Homo sapiens: one gene and its partners. The protein of the gene in region 3 purifies or fractionates together with the protein of the main gene of each other region. This does not show direct contact. Each region holds a gene or a part of one and is shown on either strand. Other genes may lie near its edges.

Region 1 (4,147 bases), on a different chromosome or scaffold from region 3:
CTGAGCTCTGCTTGCTCACACTGGGTCTTCCCTCAGAGACCCCCAAGCCCTCCTATCTTCTGCAGTCACCGTCATCCACTTTTCTGTAGGGAGGGAACAGCATGGAGCTCTCTGTTCACCGGTCTCCAGGACCTCGGATTCCACCTTTAATCCTGAAAACCCAGGAAGGCTTCTGTATCCCTACAATGAAGCAGGTTTGGGGCTGGATCTGCAGGGTGGCAACTCAATCCATGCAGAACAGAAGAAGCATGGACTTTTCCATTCTGGCTATTCCATTCACTAGCTGGGCCATTCTGAGCAAACTACCTCCCAATGTGCCTCAGTTTCCTCATCTGCAAAATGGGCTAGTCGCTGGCATTGTACCGAGCAGTATGAGACCGGAGGTCATGGGAAGAGGCTGGTAGGCACTTCATCCCAGGCAGCTGCTCAGGGACATGGGACACAGGGAGGGGACTCCGAGCTGCTCCTAGCTCAGAGAGGCTCTAGGGACAGGCACTGGAAGGAAGGGGATGCAGAATGGTGAGTGGAGCTGGGTCTCAGAACACAGACATCTTGAAGTCTGCTATGTGCTGATTTCACACTTGACCCCCCAACACCCTGAGGCATTACTGTCCTCATTTCTCAGATGGAACTACAGAGGCCCAAGGAAAAGGGGCTTAGGCCAGGACACCCAGCTCTTCTCCAAGTGTCTGTCTCAGGCTAGCTTTTGCAACTCTCCATTGGGATTCTTCCTAGATCTCCATCTGTACCTGCCAACCCACCTCTGACCCCCAACCTGTTGCGCCCAGTATTTGCTGCCGATCAGGACAGCCTTAACCCCTCCTTCCCGGGCAATCAGCTGCTCCAAGCCAAGCCCACCCCTGCCCCCTGGAGGGAGGCGGCTCCTTTTAAGGCTGCTTCTGGGAATTTCCACTCCAGAGCCAGAACCAGAGACCCCAGCCCCACTTGACACCTGCGGCTCACCCTTGGGGAGGTGGGGCGCCAGACCTGAGTGCAGGAGACGCAGACCTGGAAGGGCTCCCCCTCCCTGACCTGCCACACATCGAGTTTGTCTGCGTCGAGTTTGGCCAGTCTGTGAGGGTCAGGAATAGAGCAGGAGACAGCAGGGCCACCTCCTTCAGAAGGCCCCCACCGCTCCATCCCTGCACTGGGTGGCCCAGGAGAGACTGGCAGCCCAGAGGGCACAGCGCGCACGCCCCCACCCGCATCTGCTTTGCAGCCTCACTGGCCAGGAAGGTGGACACCTCATACCTCAGTCTCCCAATTACGCCCTCCTCCTCCCCCTCCTCCTCCCTCTTTTCTCTCCTCCTCCTCCCCTTTCTCTCCTCCTCGCCCCCCTGAAAACCTGTGGCTCGGAGAGACCTTGGCTTCTCTGGGACTCTACCCCTGGGGACTTCCCACATCTGCTCCTGAGCTTGGGGGCAGGGGGGCAACCGCCTGAGGAACCTCTCCAGCGATGGGAGCCGCCCGCCTGCTGCCCAACCTCACTCTGTAAGTGTGCTACCTCTCCCACTGGAGTTTCGTTGCCATTTCCAGCCTCAGGGCAGCCCTCCTCTTCCCGGGACTCCCACGCGTGCGTGCACGGGGCTGGCAGGGCGGGGGCGGGGGCCTGGGTGCACCCTAGGCTTGCAGCTGGCACCCACACCTGGGCTTACCTCCTCTCCCCACACAGGTGCTTACAGCTGCTGATTCTCTGCTGTCAAACTCAGGTAGGCGGGCATTCCCACCGGCTTTCCCCCAATTTTTCCACCCTACCTGACCAGGGCGGGTGCAAGGGACCGGCTCCTTTCAGGTGGACAGAGGCAGAGTCTGGCCTCTCCCTGGGTCCAGGAGGCACTGAGGTTTGGAGGGGAGTGAGCCTTTGACCGGGTGGGCAGGGAAGGGGGCTGACTGAGGTTTTGTCTCTGTCCTCCCTCTGAGGACCCTCCCCACTTCCCCTGGGTCTCTGCTCCTCTTCCTCCCTCTCCATCGGGTTCCCCCAGACTTGAGGGATGGAGCCTGGAGCGGTTGGAAGCAGGTGGAGGTGATGGCTCAGGTGAGGCTTGGGTTTGCCAGTACCTGAAAGGACAGGTTTTGATGCAAGACCACTTGTATGTCCTTCTCGCCACCCCACTCCCATCAATATGGATGCCTGGGGTGGGGGTCTCGTGAGCATGTCCAGAATGCCTGGCCAGGGTGAGGTGACTCCTCACCTAGAGGGCACAGAGGTCAAGCCCAAAGAGGTTTGTTTGGGACGGGATGCAGGGTTCGCTTCTCCACACTCCCCCCACCCCAAGTCGGCCCCCCACCTCCCTCCATGCACACCTCCCACCCCCAAGTCTCAGCCCCCAGTGCGAGGCTTGCTCCCTTTTTTGTGATCCTCCATAAAAGTGCAGCTATTAAAATGCACTGGTCCAGAACCGCTCTGGGGAGAGATCGCTTGGCTTTCCCAGGCCAGAGGCCCGCTTCTCTTCATATCCAGTGGGGACTTTTTTTGAAGGTAAATGCCTTTTCTCTGGGAGAGGGAAAGGGGCAGCCTTTGAAGCAGTGGGGGGGTGGGAGAGGGAGAGACAATTCCCCCCCCCTTCCTTCCCCCTTTTGCTCCAGCCCCGTTCCAGGCCTTTTGCTTCACACATCCAGGGGGAGCCAGAAGAAAGCCCCCAGCCTGGCTGGGAGGGGGCTGGGGGTGGGCCCAACCTGTTCTGGAGGGGAACTAGCACAATGGTGCGGCTGGCCGGGCGTTTATGGCCTGGCTGAGGCCCCATTCAGGACTCAGGGAAGGTGGCAAAGCGGTCCTTTCCCCCTTGAAGTGCCCCCTCACCCCCCTGGGAGGGGGGGCCAGCAGGCCGGACCACAGCCATGCTTGAGGGGCTGTCTGACAAGCAGCTGTCTGCAGTGGTGGAAGGGGAGGTCCTCCCGCAGCGGGAACATGAAAGGGACAGGCTAGGTCCCGCGGGGAGAGGGACTTGTGGGTTGTGGGCTGTGGGGGGGCGTGGGGCTGCTTTTGTGAAAAGCTTGAAGGGGGACGAGGAAAGGAGGGGGCTTCGGGGGGGCGCTTTCTGCTCCTGACCTGGAACAGACTGCCAGAGGAGGCCGTCGGCCAAGAGGGGCGGAGGGCCTGAACCTGGGCCAGGAGGCGGGGCTGGGATAGGCAGGACCCCACCCCCTGGAAGGGAGGCCAGCGTGGGGCAGGCTGGGCAGGTCCCCCACCCCAAATGCTCCAGGGTGGGGCGAGGGGCAGGTCTTGCAGAGGCTAGGCAGAGGCTGCTCTATGGGGAGGTGCAATTGGAAATGAGCAACGGTGCACAGTAAGTGTTAACCCCGCGCAGGTTAAATGTCCAGCTCTGAGAGCTGCTCCCTCACTCCCCCTGCCTCAAAGGTGATATTTCCCACCCCCTCCCTAGGAGAGAGTAGCCCCTAACAGATGCTAATCTGGGTCTAGCTCTGTCCAGATGGCTGAGGTTGGGCCTGGGATAAAGGTGGAATTAGGGATTTGGGGCAGGGGCTGAGAAAAGCTGTCCCAGCACAGGCAGCGGCATCCAGGTGGAGACAAAACCAGCAAAAAAGGTACATTCTCATGCTAGAGCTGAGGCTGTTGCCAGGAGCCAGGAAACCTAGCCCGGGTCGCACCTTGCAGGATGGAGGGGAAGAAGTACTCAGTCTCTCCCACTCAGCCTTACAGATGGGTAACGAGAGACCTAGCTGGGAGGCGGTACTCCTCCTGGCTTTGCACAGTGCGTGGGGGGAAATGGTTCCTCTCCCCCAACCCAAAGGGGAAGCAGGTGGGCGGGCGCATCCCACCAACTGGCCAGGAGCCTCTGTTACATTGTGGCTAAGGAGCTGCCTGCCAGGGGCAGCCATTGGGCCACCGCTGATAGTGCCTGTCCTCTTGGTACTGCCTCTGCCTCCCTCCGCTAAGGAGGCACCTTGCCTGCCTGCTGTCCCATAGTGCCCAGCCCCAGCCCCAGCCCCAGCTCCAGCCCATAGAGGAGGGAGGAACACTGGAAGGGCCCTGAGCACCAGGGGGCAAGGCCGGGAAGAAGATGGGTATGAGCTCAGGATTCCACAGTTAGTGCTTCAAAGAAATGCTCATGGGACCCTGCAGGAGCTTTCAGAGTCCCCCACATGCTCTCTGGTGACCCTAACTCGCAGCACCATCTGCTCTGTG
Region 2 (3,500 bases), on a different chromosome or scaffold from region 3:
TGCCTGTTCACTCTGATGGTAGTTTGTTCTGCTGTGCAGAAGCTCTTTAGTTTAACTAGATCCCATTTGTCAATTTTGGCTTTTGTTGCCATTGCTTTTGGTGTTTTAGTCATGAAGTCCTGCCATGCGTATGTCCTGAATGGTATTGCCTAGATTTTCTTCTAGGGTTTTAATGGTTTTAGGTCTAACATTTAAGTCTTTAATCCATCTTGAATTAATTTTTGTAAGGTGTAAGGAAGGGATCCAGTTTCAGCTTTCTACATATGACTAGCCAGTTTTCCCAGCACCATTTATTAAATAGGGAATCCTTTCCCCATTTCTTGTTTTTGTCAGGTTTGTCAAAGATCAGATGGTTGTAGATGTGTGGTATTATTTCTGAGGGCTCTGTTCTGTTCCATTGGTCTATATCTCTGTTTTGGTACCAGTACCATGCTGTTTTGGTTACTGTAGTCTTGTAGTATAGTTTGAAGTCAGGTAGCGTGATGCCTCCAGCTTTGTTCTTTTGGCTTAGGATTGTCTTGGCGATGTGGGCTCTTTTTTGGTTCCATATGAACTTTAAAGTAGTTTTTCCAATTCTGTGAAGAAAGTCCTTGGTAGCTTGATGGGGATGGCATTGAATCTATAAATTACCTTGGGCAGTATGGCCATTTTCATGATATTGATTCTTCCTATCCATGAGCATGGAATGTTCTTCCATTTGTGTCCTCTTTTATTTCATTGAGCAGTGGTTTGTAGTTCTCCTTGAAGAGGTCCTTCACATCCCTTATAAGTTGGATTCCTAAGTATTTTATTCTCTTTGAAGCAATTTTGAATGGGAGTTCACTTATGATTTGACTCTCTGTTTATCTGTTATTGGTGTATAGGAATGCTTGTGATTTTTGCACATTGATTTTGTATCCTGAGACTTTGCTGAAGTTGCTTATCAGCTTAAGGAGATATTGGGCTGAGACGATGGGGTTTTCTAGATATGCAATCATGTCATCTGCAAACAGGGACAATTTGACTTCCTCTTTTCCTAATTCAATACCCTTTATTTCTTTCTCCTGCCTGATTGCCCTGGCCAGAACTTCCAACACTATGTTGAATAGGAGTGGTGAGAGAGGGCATCCCTGTCTTGTGTGACAGTTTTCAAAGGGAATGCTTCCAGTTTTTGCCCATTGATTATGATATTGGCTGTGGGTTTGTCATAAACAGCTCTTATTATTTTGAGATACATCCCATCAATACCTAGTTTATTGAGAGTTTTTAGCATGAGACGCTGTTGAATTTTGTTGAAGGCCTTTTCTGCATCTATTGAGATAATCATGTGGTTTTTGTCTTTGGTTCTGTTTATATGATGGATTACGTTTATTGATTTGCATATGTTGAACCAGCCTTGCATCCCAGGGATGAAGCCAACTTGATCATGGTGGATAAGCTTTTTGATGTGCTGCTGGATTCGGTTTGCCAGTATTTTATTGAGGATTTTTGCATCGATGTTCATCAGGCATATTGGTCTAAATTCTCTTTTTTTGTTGTGTCTCTGCCAGGCTTTGGTATCAGGATGATGCTGGCCTCATAAAATGAGTTAGGGAGGATTCCCTCTTTTTCTATTGATTGGAATAGTTTCAGAAGGAATGGTACCAGCTCCTCTTTGTACCTCTGGTAGAATTCGGCTGTGAATCCGTCTGGTCCTAGACTTTTTTTGATTGGTAGGCTATTAAATATTGCCTCAATTTCCGAACCTGTTACTGGTCTATTCAGAGATTCAACTTCTTCCTGGTTTAGTCTTGGGAGGGTGTATGTGTTGAGGAATTTATCCATTTCTTCTAGATTTTCTAGTTTATTTGCATAGAGGTGTTTATAGTGTTCTCTGATGGTAGTTTGTATTTCTGTGGGATTGGTGGTGATATCCCCTTTATTAGTTTTTATTGCATCTATTTGATTCTTCTCTCTTTTTTCTTCTTTATTAGTCTTGCTAGTGGTCTGTCAATTTTGTTAATCTTTTCAGAAAACCAACTCCTGGATTCATTGATTTTTTGAAGGGTTTTTTGTGTCTCTATTTCCTTCAGTTCTTCTCTGATCTTAGTGATTTCTTGCCTTCTGCTAGCTTTGGAATGTGCTTTCTCTTGCTTCTCTAGTTCTTTTAATTGTGATGTTAGGGTGTCAATTTTAGATCTTTCCTGCTTTCTCTTGTGGGCATTTAGTGCTATAAATTTCCTTCTACACACTGCTTTAAATGTGTCCCAGAGATTCTGGTATGTTGTGTCTTTGTTCTCGTTGGTTTCAAAGAACATCTTTGTTTGTGCCTTCATTTCGTTATGTACCCAGTTGTCATTCAGGAGCAGGTTGTTCAGTGTCCATGTAGTGGAGCAGTTTTGTTTTGAGTGAGTTTCTTAATCCTCAGTTCTAGTTTGATTGCACTGTGGTCTGAGAGACAGTTTGTTATAATTTCTGTTCTTTTATATTTGCTGAGGAGTGCTTTACTTCCAACTATGTGGTCAATTTTGGAATAAGTGTGATGTGGTGCTGTGAAGAATGTATATTTTGTTGATTTGGGGTGGAGAGTTCTGTAGATGTCTATTAGGTCCGCTTGGTGCAGAGCTGAGTTCAATTCCTGGGTATCCTTGTTAACTTTCTGTCTTGTTGATCTGTCTAATGTTGACAGTGGGGTGTTAAAGTCTCCCATTATTATTGTGTGGGAGTCTAAGTCTCTTTGTAGGTCTCTAAGGGCATGCTTTATGAATCCGGTGCTCCTGTATTGGGTGCATATATATTTAGGATAGTTATATGCACCCATATATATTTAGGATAGTTAGCTCTTGTTGAATAGTCTTTTTCTATTGTTTTAATTTCAACTTGCCTATATTCTGTTTGAAGTGAGTTGTAGACAGCATATAGTTGAGTCATGTTTTTAATCCACTTTGGCAATCTTTGTCTTTTAATTGTATTTAGACCACTTACATTTAATTATTGATATTAAATCTTTAGTTTATTTCGTGTTTTCTGTTTGTTATGCTTTTCATTTCTTGATTTGCTTTTTTTCTGCCATCCTGTGGATAGCTGAACATTTTTCAGAATTTCATTTGTTTTTGAGAATATCTCTTCATATAACTTTTTTAGTGGTCGCCCTAGGTTGTATATTATATGTACATAACAGTTTACTGGTGTCACCAGTTCAAGTAAAGTATAGAAACCTTGCCTCCTTTTATTATTCTCTACCATCTCCTTTTTATAATTGTCTTAAACATTTGCCTTATGTACGTACATCTAGAACCATATTAGAGAATTTTATGATTTTTGTTTCAAATGTCAAACATAATTTAGAACACTCAAGAGAAGGAAAGCTTATTGTATTTACCTATATCTTTGCTTACTGTGTTCTTTTTTTTTCTTTTTGATGTTCCAGGATCTTCTCTTTTATCATTTCTTTTTTGTTTAGATAACTTCCTTTAGTCATTCTATGAAGATACGTCTGCTGGTGACAAATTTTCCTATTTTTCCTTCTTCTTAGAATATCT
Region 3 (3,666 bases):
CTTACTGAATTTATTAGTTCTAGGAGCTTTTTAGTGAAATCCTTAGGATTTTCTCTATGTAAGATCCTGGTGGTTTTTTCTTTTTTCAGATAGGGTCTCACTACCTAATGGCATGGCTAGATTACACGGTAGACATACTGTTAACTTTTCAAAGAAACTAGCAAACTGTTTTCCAAAGTGGTTGTGACATTTTACATTTCCATCAGATGTGTATTTGACCCTGAATTTTTAAAATTGATCTGATCTCTTCCCCTTGATAGGAAAATCTGAATGTTTCCAGTACCCGGAAGTGTGCCATGTCCTAAAGCCTCGTATATACAAAACAGCATTTAATAAAACCTGAGAGGTACTCTGGGAATATAAAGGAAGCATACTGCCGTTTCTTTTTTGAATGGAAGCAGTGGTCAGGAAAGGGCATACCAAGGGTATGTATAAACTCTTGTTAAGCCTAGCTGCTCACCTAAATCTTGGAAGACTTATGTTTACAAAGAATGAATCTATGACAATGAGAAAAAATTTTATTTATGACGATCTTGAGCAGTATAAAACTCAGAAGCTCCACTGAGGTGAAGGAAACATGGACATGATACTAAGCAAAGCCTAGTCTTTTCCATAAAATGAATAAGAAGTACATTTGGTGGAGTTTGAGACCAGCCTGGGCAACACAGTGAGACCCTGTCTCTAAAAGCATTAAAGCATTAATCCTCGCATTTCGATAGGGCTATGTAGCTTTTAAGTAAGCAATGTTAGAATGAGTTGTAGAGTTTTATTTTTGTGAATATAGTGAGTGACAGATGGCAATTACATGAGGATATTTGAACGAAGGTACATAAGCCTAAACAATTTCACCTAGGTAAAATATTGATGTCATAACCAAACTATATGGCCCCGTTTCATAAAGGTTACTATATTCTATAGAGAGTGAAGAGGTGGCCTTTCTATCCCAGCTTACCCTATTCTTGTTATTGTTCAAATTCTCCTGAAGCTTGCATAACTAGCTGCCATCAGGTAAATGCTATTGGCTAGCAGAAGACTGCAGTTCTGTTAATATTAGAACCAGCAGGGGGAACTTGGGAACTTGACATTAAAAATCTAGAAACAGAATTTTAGGATGGGTCTCGTTAGAAACCTGAATTGTTAATGGACTTAAGTAAAAACCATCCCAAAGAATTTGAGCTTTAAGGTGATAACGTCTTTTCAGAGATCATAGCACATGAAGAACCCATGGACACTACACAGACTATGAACAGTTAGCAGAAAAAGATCTCGTGACTAAAGTGGGGATGACAGCAAAAAAAAAAAATTTACAAAAGGAAAAAAGTTGAGAATACAGGAATATTTACAAGATGTTAAAAAATTATTAATCTTCAGCCAAAATGAGGCCCCTTCGCATTCCCAAAACCTTTGCTTTCTTCTCCTTTCGTTCTTGCTCGCGTTTCTTCCGTTGCTCTTCCCTGAGAGGGATAGGTCACACATTAAGCTCTAGGGAGGCTCCAAAACAGATACTTTAAAGCAACTATTGTTGGACTAACACCCAAACTTCCAAGCAATGACATCCAGCATACTTGTGTAAAACAGACTCTTAGAGGGCACTGTGCTCTGCCTAGTGTTTCTAACACCTGTTCGTCATTGTTGTGTTAAAGGGTTAGAAACTGGTATTTTCCTTTTGTTAACTCAGCACTCTAAAATCATGCATGGAGGCCGGGGCGCGATGGCTCATGCCTGAAATCCCAGCACGTTAGGAGGCCAAGGCAGGCAGATCACTTGAGGTCAGGAGTTCGAGACCAGCCTGGCCAAAATGGTGAAACCCCGTCTCTACTAAAAATACAAAAAAGGTAGCCAGGTGTGGTGGTGCATGCCTATAATCACAGCTACTGGGGAGGCTGAGGCAGGAGAATCCCTTGAACCCGGGAGGCGGAGGTTGCAGTGAGCCGAGATCACGCCACTGCACTCCAGACTGGGCGACAGAATGAGACTGTCTCAAAACAAACAAACAAAAATAAATAATAAAATCATGCATGGAATTGGAGTCAGGAGACACCTTGCTGATTGAATCCAACTCTTGTTATTTTACAGTTTGCTTTAGGCCAGATGCAGTGGCTCACACCTATAATCCCAGCATTTTGGGAGGCCAAGGTGGGAGGATCCCTTGTGCCCAGGAGTTCAAGGCCAAAGTAAGCTATGATCATGCCATTGTACTCCAGTCTGGGTGACAAAAAGTAAGACCCTGTCTCTAAGAAAAAAAAAAAAATTTGTTTTAAATGAGAAATGTCTACACCTAGAAATCAAAGTTGACCAGGTGTGGTAGCTCACGCCTGTAATCCCAGCACTTTGGGAGGCCAAGGTGGGTGGATCACCTGAGATCAGCAGTTTGAGACCAGCTTGGCCAAGATGGTAAAACCCCGTCTCTACTAAAAATACAAAAATTAGCTGCACGCGGGGGCGGGAACCTGTAATCCCAGCTACTCGGGAGGCTGAGGCAGCAGTATCACTTGAACCTGGGAGGCAGAGGTTGCAGTGAGCCAAGATCGCACCACCACACTCTAGCCTGGGCATCAGAGCGAGACTCCATCTCAAAAAAAAAAAAAAAAAAAAAAAAAAACCAAGATAAGTTAATATAATCTTGGGCTTTTTCTTTTTTTTTTTTGGTTTGTCTAATCCTCTGAAAGTAGAGCATAATGGCTAACTCAGTAGATCCTGGTTCTAGTTCTATTCCTTTCACTAAACTATGTGATTTTGAGCTTGACCTTTGACTTTGATTTCTTTTTTCTTTTTTGAGACGGAGTTTTGCTCTTGTTGCCCAGGCTGTAGTGCAATGGTGCAATTTCAGCTCGCCACAACCTCCGCCTCCCGGGTTCAAGTGATTCTGCTGCCTCAGCCTCCCGAGTAGCTGGGATTACAGGTATGTGCCACCACGCCCGGCTAATTTTGTATTTTTAGTAGAGATGGGGTTTCTCCATGTCTTCAACTCCTGACATCGTGATCCACCCGCCTTGGCCTCCCAGAGTACTGGGATTACAGGCGTGAGCCACCTTGCCTGGCCAACTTAATAACGGTGAGCAAAGGCCCTGGTGGCAGTCGTGTATAGCCATGAGTCAACTGACAGGTAACCCTGTGTCACGAGGGTCCAAGCAGGGAATCTGGGCCCAACCATGACTTGCTGCAACCCAGGATGAGCTCTGGCTTTAACTTGGTTTTCATGCTGAAGGAAGCCTCTAAGGACCGTCCTGGGTTTTTCCTCTTTATAGGGCCTTGACGCCTTGTAAGCCTGGTTTTCTTAGGAGTGAGGAATTTATGTCTATCTGGATATGTAGGTGCCCTGGGCTGCTGGGCATTGGTATCTGGAGAGATACCCACATGCCCTGTGTTTAGGCAGATGAGTCATGCAAGAGCAGTGCTCTGAATCTGGGTCTTCTTCTGAATCACCTGCAGAGCCTTGGAAACAATGCAGGTGCTTGGGCCTCACCCCAAATCTGCTGATTTGGAGTCCATTACACTGGAACCTAGGCAGATGTACTCAGAAAGTTATATACACGATACCACTTTTTTTTTTTTTTGAGACGGAGTCTCACTCTGTCGCCCAGGCTGGAGTGCAGTGGCGTGATCTCGGCTCACTGTAAGCTCTGCCTCCCAGGTTCCTGCCTCAGTCTCCCGAGTAGCTGGGAC
Region 4 (3,500 bases), on a different chromosome or scaffold from region 3:
TACAGGCATGCGCCACCACACCTGACTATTTTTGATTTTTTTGTAGAGACAGGGTCTCACCATGTTGCCCATGTTGGTCTCGAATGCCTGAACATAAGTGATCCTCCCGTTTCAGCCTCCCGGAGTGCTGGGATTGCAGGCGTGAGCCACCACACCCGGCCCATAGTTAGATTAAATTCAGGAGATCAGAACTTTGATTTTCTTCTCTTTCTTTGGAGAAGAGGCCATTCTCCCCAAAGTGTGACTGCCGCTTCACTCTGGGGTCCCCAATGCTTTGTGTAGCTGCTGTCATTTTGGAACATGTACAACAAAACAACAAAAAAAGGCTATGGGTAGTGGGAAAAAAGAGATCAATTAGTTTGGGGCTATCTGGTGCTGATTTCTTTATGTCTGTCCCTGCAGTAAAAAGAAGGCATTTAAGATTTGTGGTATCACAGAAAGCACAGTTCCAGATACACCATGCCTAAAGGGGCCACCTCTCAGTTGGTGCTAGTCTTTCTGGAAAGGTTGAGCCTTATGGACTGTGATGTCCTCAGAAGGGGCTTTCTGTGAAGCAGTTGGGCAGTTTAGGCATGATTCTGCTGAGCAGTCTGTCCCTGGGACTCTGGAAAAAGGTTGGTTTCACTGTGGCTTCAAAGAAAGGAGGATAATGAGCTTTTCACTAGTAACTTCTCAGCCCTTTTTTCATTGGCTGCATGGGAGGGCCTGTTCCCAGCGTGCTCTGGGTATCAAGAGAGCTGCCATGGTTGCCGTGGGCTAGAAATTCCAGCAATCACAGGCCTTCTTGTTTTTACTTCTATGACAGGAGAGGATTTAGTGCGTCTTTCTAAAACTGTTGGTGCAGTCCTGCAGAGAAAAGTCACAGTTGTCTAGGTCTGATGACTGAAAACATTCCAGGGGCCAGCCCTTTCCAGTTTCCACCTCTCCACTGCTGTTGGCCCCGACAGCTAGCATCAGTTTCTGGCTGTATCAGGTAGCTAGCCTCTACAAGGTGTGTTCTGTCAGGAAAACTACTGACCTGTTGGTTTCCTAGGAGAAGGTTGAGTTTAGCTACTTAAATCTGTGGCCAAAGTATAAAATAAAATAAAAAAATTTTAATGTAGTATCCATAGAGATTTCTCTTCTTGAGTGTTTTTGTTTTGTTTTGTTTTTTTGAGACGGAGTCTAGCTCTGTCGCCGAGGCTGGAGTGCAGTGGCGCAATCTCAGCTCGCTGCAACCTCTGCCTCCCGGGTTCGAGCGATTCTCCTGCCTCAGCCTCCCAAGTAGCTGGGATTACAGGTGCTCGCCACTACACCCAGCCAATTTTTGTATTTTTAGTAGAGATGGGGTTTCACTGTGTTGGCTAGGCCGGTCTCAAACTCGTGACCTCGTGATCCGCCCGCCTCGGCCTCCCAAAATGCTGGGATTACAAGCGTGAGCCACCACGCCTGGCCTTTGAGTGTTTTTCTTAAAACCGTTTGCTCCTACCAAGCATCCTTCTCTTTAACATCTAGCTCTGTGCAGGATATTAAGGTAAAACCATGCCCCACAGAAATTAGCAACAAACCCCAATAGTCTGTATGGAGACAGATAATTTTTTTTTCTTTTTTTTGAGAAGGAGTTTCTCTCTGTCACCCAGGCTAGAGTGCAGTGGCGCAATTTCTGCTCACTGAACCTCTGCCTTCCGGGTTCAAGCAATTCTCATGCCTCACCCTCCCAAGTAGCTGGGACTACAGGCTCATGTCACCATGCCCGACTCATGTTTTGTATTTTAGTAGAGACGGGTTCACCATGTTGCCCAAGCTGGTCTGGAACTCCTGAGCTCAGGCAGTCTGCCCACATCGGCCTCCCAAAGTGTTAGGATTACAGGCGTGAGCCACCGCGCCCGGTCCGAGACAGAGAATCTTGTCCTTGACGGTGAGACATTTCAAAATGCCCATCACAGTAAGCCAGCCCCTCCCCCCAACAAACTCGTTCCCTTATAAAAGGAACACAGGAAATAACAGTCATTCCTTTCTAAAAGGAATAATAAATATGTACAGCTAAAATTGCATTCTTCAGGGGCCATGGCGATTAGATGAGATTGTATAGAAGGAAAGTATGACTTGAGTCTGGAAAGGTCAGGACTGTCACCACTCTTCACTGACCTTGAGAACAATTCCCAGCCCAGCCCTTCCTAGCTTATAAAAACATTTGTGACCTTCCATATGTCAGTAGTGTTTCTGCTATCTAGTTGTTCATCTCACTGGCGAACAAGCGCGCAGCCTGTGGGAAGCTCCCAAGTTCCTCGGGCCCTTTTTGGAAGAGCTTCTAAGATATATGTTGTATGGCTGCCTACAGCCCAGGGGGAGTGCATTTTTACAATCATTAGCAGTGACCTTGTGAGGTGTAGGTGCTATTATTCCTGGTCCGGGGAGGAAATCATGTGGTCGGTCCAGCCCTGGCTGTTAGGCCTGAGCCCACACTCTGAGGGACCTTTTTTGGAGCAATTTGTTTACATTTGCTTCTCACCAGATAATTAACTAGTTAAGTGCTTTAGGATGCTTAGTTACTAGCTCCTTTGAAGCATTTCATTTGTTTTCACCTGGGATTGACCTCCTGCCTCTGTAGCCTGCATGAGCTCATAAACTGCATCTGAGAAATTTGAACTCAGTGCTGAAGAGCCAAGCGATAATCCTGCTCTCAGTTATAATGCTAAGAACAGTGACTACAAGTGAGATGCTGGTCGAAATCTTGATCATAAATGAGAAATAACTTTTTAACATTTGGCCAAGTGGAAAAAGATAACATAAATAATTATTGGGCAGGGCGCATTGGGTCACGCCTGTAATCCCAGCACTTTGGGGGGCCGAGGCAGGCGGATCACTTGAGGTCAGGAGTTCCAGATCAGCCTGGCCAACATGGTGAAACCTTGTCTCTACTGAAAATACAAAAATTAGCCAGGTGTGGTGGCAGGTGCCTGTAACCCAAGCTACCTGGGAGGCTGAGGCAGGAGAATCGCTTGAACTTGGGAGGCAGAGGTTGCAATGAGCTGAGATTGTGTCACTGCACTCCAGCCTGGGCGACACAGCGAGACTCTGTCTCAAAAAAAAAAAAAAAAAAACGTTGCTCAGGATTTTTAAATGGAGGGGGCGGTGGTCTTGCCTTGTTACCCAGACTGATCTGAACTCAGATCGCTTCAAGTGATACTCCCACCTCAGCCTCCTCCTGAGTAGCTCAGAGTACAGGTGCGTGAGCCACTGCACCTAGCCGGCAGGATTTTTAAATATTGAACTTGAATGCCTTTACCGGCTGTTGGCTGCTCTCTGCTGTCCTCTCCTCTGCTCTCCCCTGCAATCCTCCTTTACCTGTTGTTACCTCTTGTGTTCCATTCTGCCTGCTTTAGCCATTTGGGCTTGGAGGCATTGTGTTTGCCACCCCTGCTGAGTGCTGGCGATTCTAACTGGGATTTGATGAGGGCACCCTTGGGTGTTAAAGTGAAATCTGGTGGATGAGGGTTAATAGTGTCTTTGTTTCATCC

The links. The genes of interacting proteins can lie anywhere in the genome.
Region 1: the proteins of NUSAP1 (region 3) and FGF17 purify together in Homo sapiens (co-immunoprecipitation; one large-scale study listed by IntAct). This does not show direct contact.
Region 2: the proteins of NUSAP1 (region 3) and SHCBP1 purify together in Homo sapiens (affinity purification with western blotting, with the first as the bait; one study listed by BioGRID). This does not show direct contact.
Region 4: the proteins of NUSAP1 (region 3) and SZRD1 purify together in Homo sapiens (co-immunoprecipitation; one large-scale study listed by IntAct). This does not show direct contact.

Annotation. Positions count from the first base shown.
Region 1 is NC_000008.11:22,041,473-22,045,619, forward strand, and holds the start of FGF17 (fibroblast growth factor 17 isoform 1 precursor), read left to right. Parts: upstream 1-1,347; 5' UTR 1,348-1,456; coding exon 1,457-1,491; intron 1,492-1,672; coding exon 1,673-1,709; intron 1,710-3,076; exon of another isoform or gene 3,077-4,147. UniProt on the Homo sapiens protein: Plays an important role in the regulation of embryonic development and as signaling molecule in the induction and patterning of the embryonic brain. Required for normal brain development.
Region 2 is NC_000016.10:46,586,880-46,590,379, reverse strand, and holds part of SHCBP1 (SHC SH2 domain-binding protein 1), read left to right. Parts: intron 1-3,500. UniProt on the Homo sapiens protein: May play a role in signaling pathways governing cellular proliferation, cell growth and differentiation. May be a component of a novel signaling pathway downstream of Shc. Acts as a positive regulator of FGF signaling in neural progenitor cells.
Region 3 is NC_000015.10:41,377,881-41,381,546, reverse strand, and holds the end of NUSAP1 (nucleolar and spindle-associated protein 1), read right to left. Parts: intron 1,455-3,666; coding exon 1,361-1,454; 3' UTR 501-1,360; downstream 1-500. UniProt on the Homo sapiens protein: Microtubule-associated protein with the capacity to bundle and stabilize microtubules. May associate with chromosomes and promote the organization of mitotic spindle microtubules around them.
Region 4 is NC_000001.11:16,373,742-16,377,241, forward strand, and holds part of SZRD1 (SUZ RNA-binding domain-containing), read left to right. Parts: intron 1-3,500.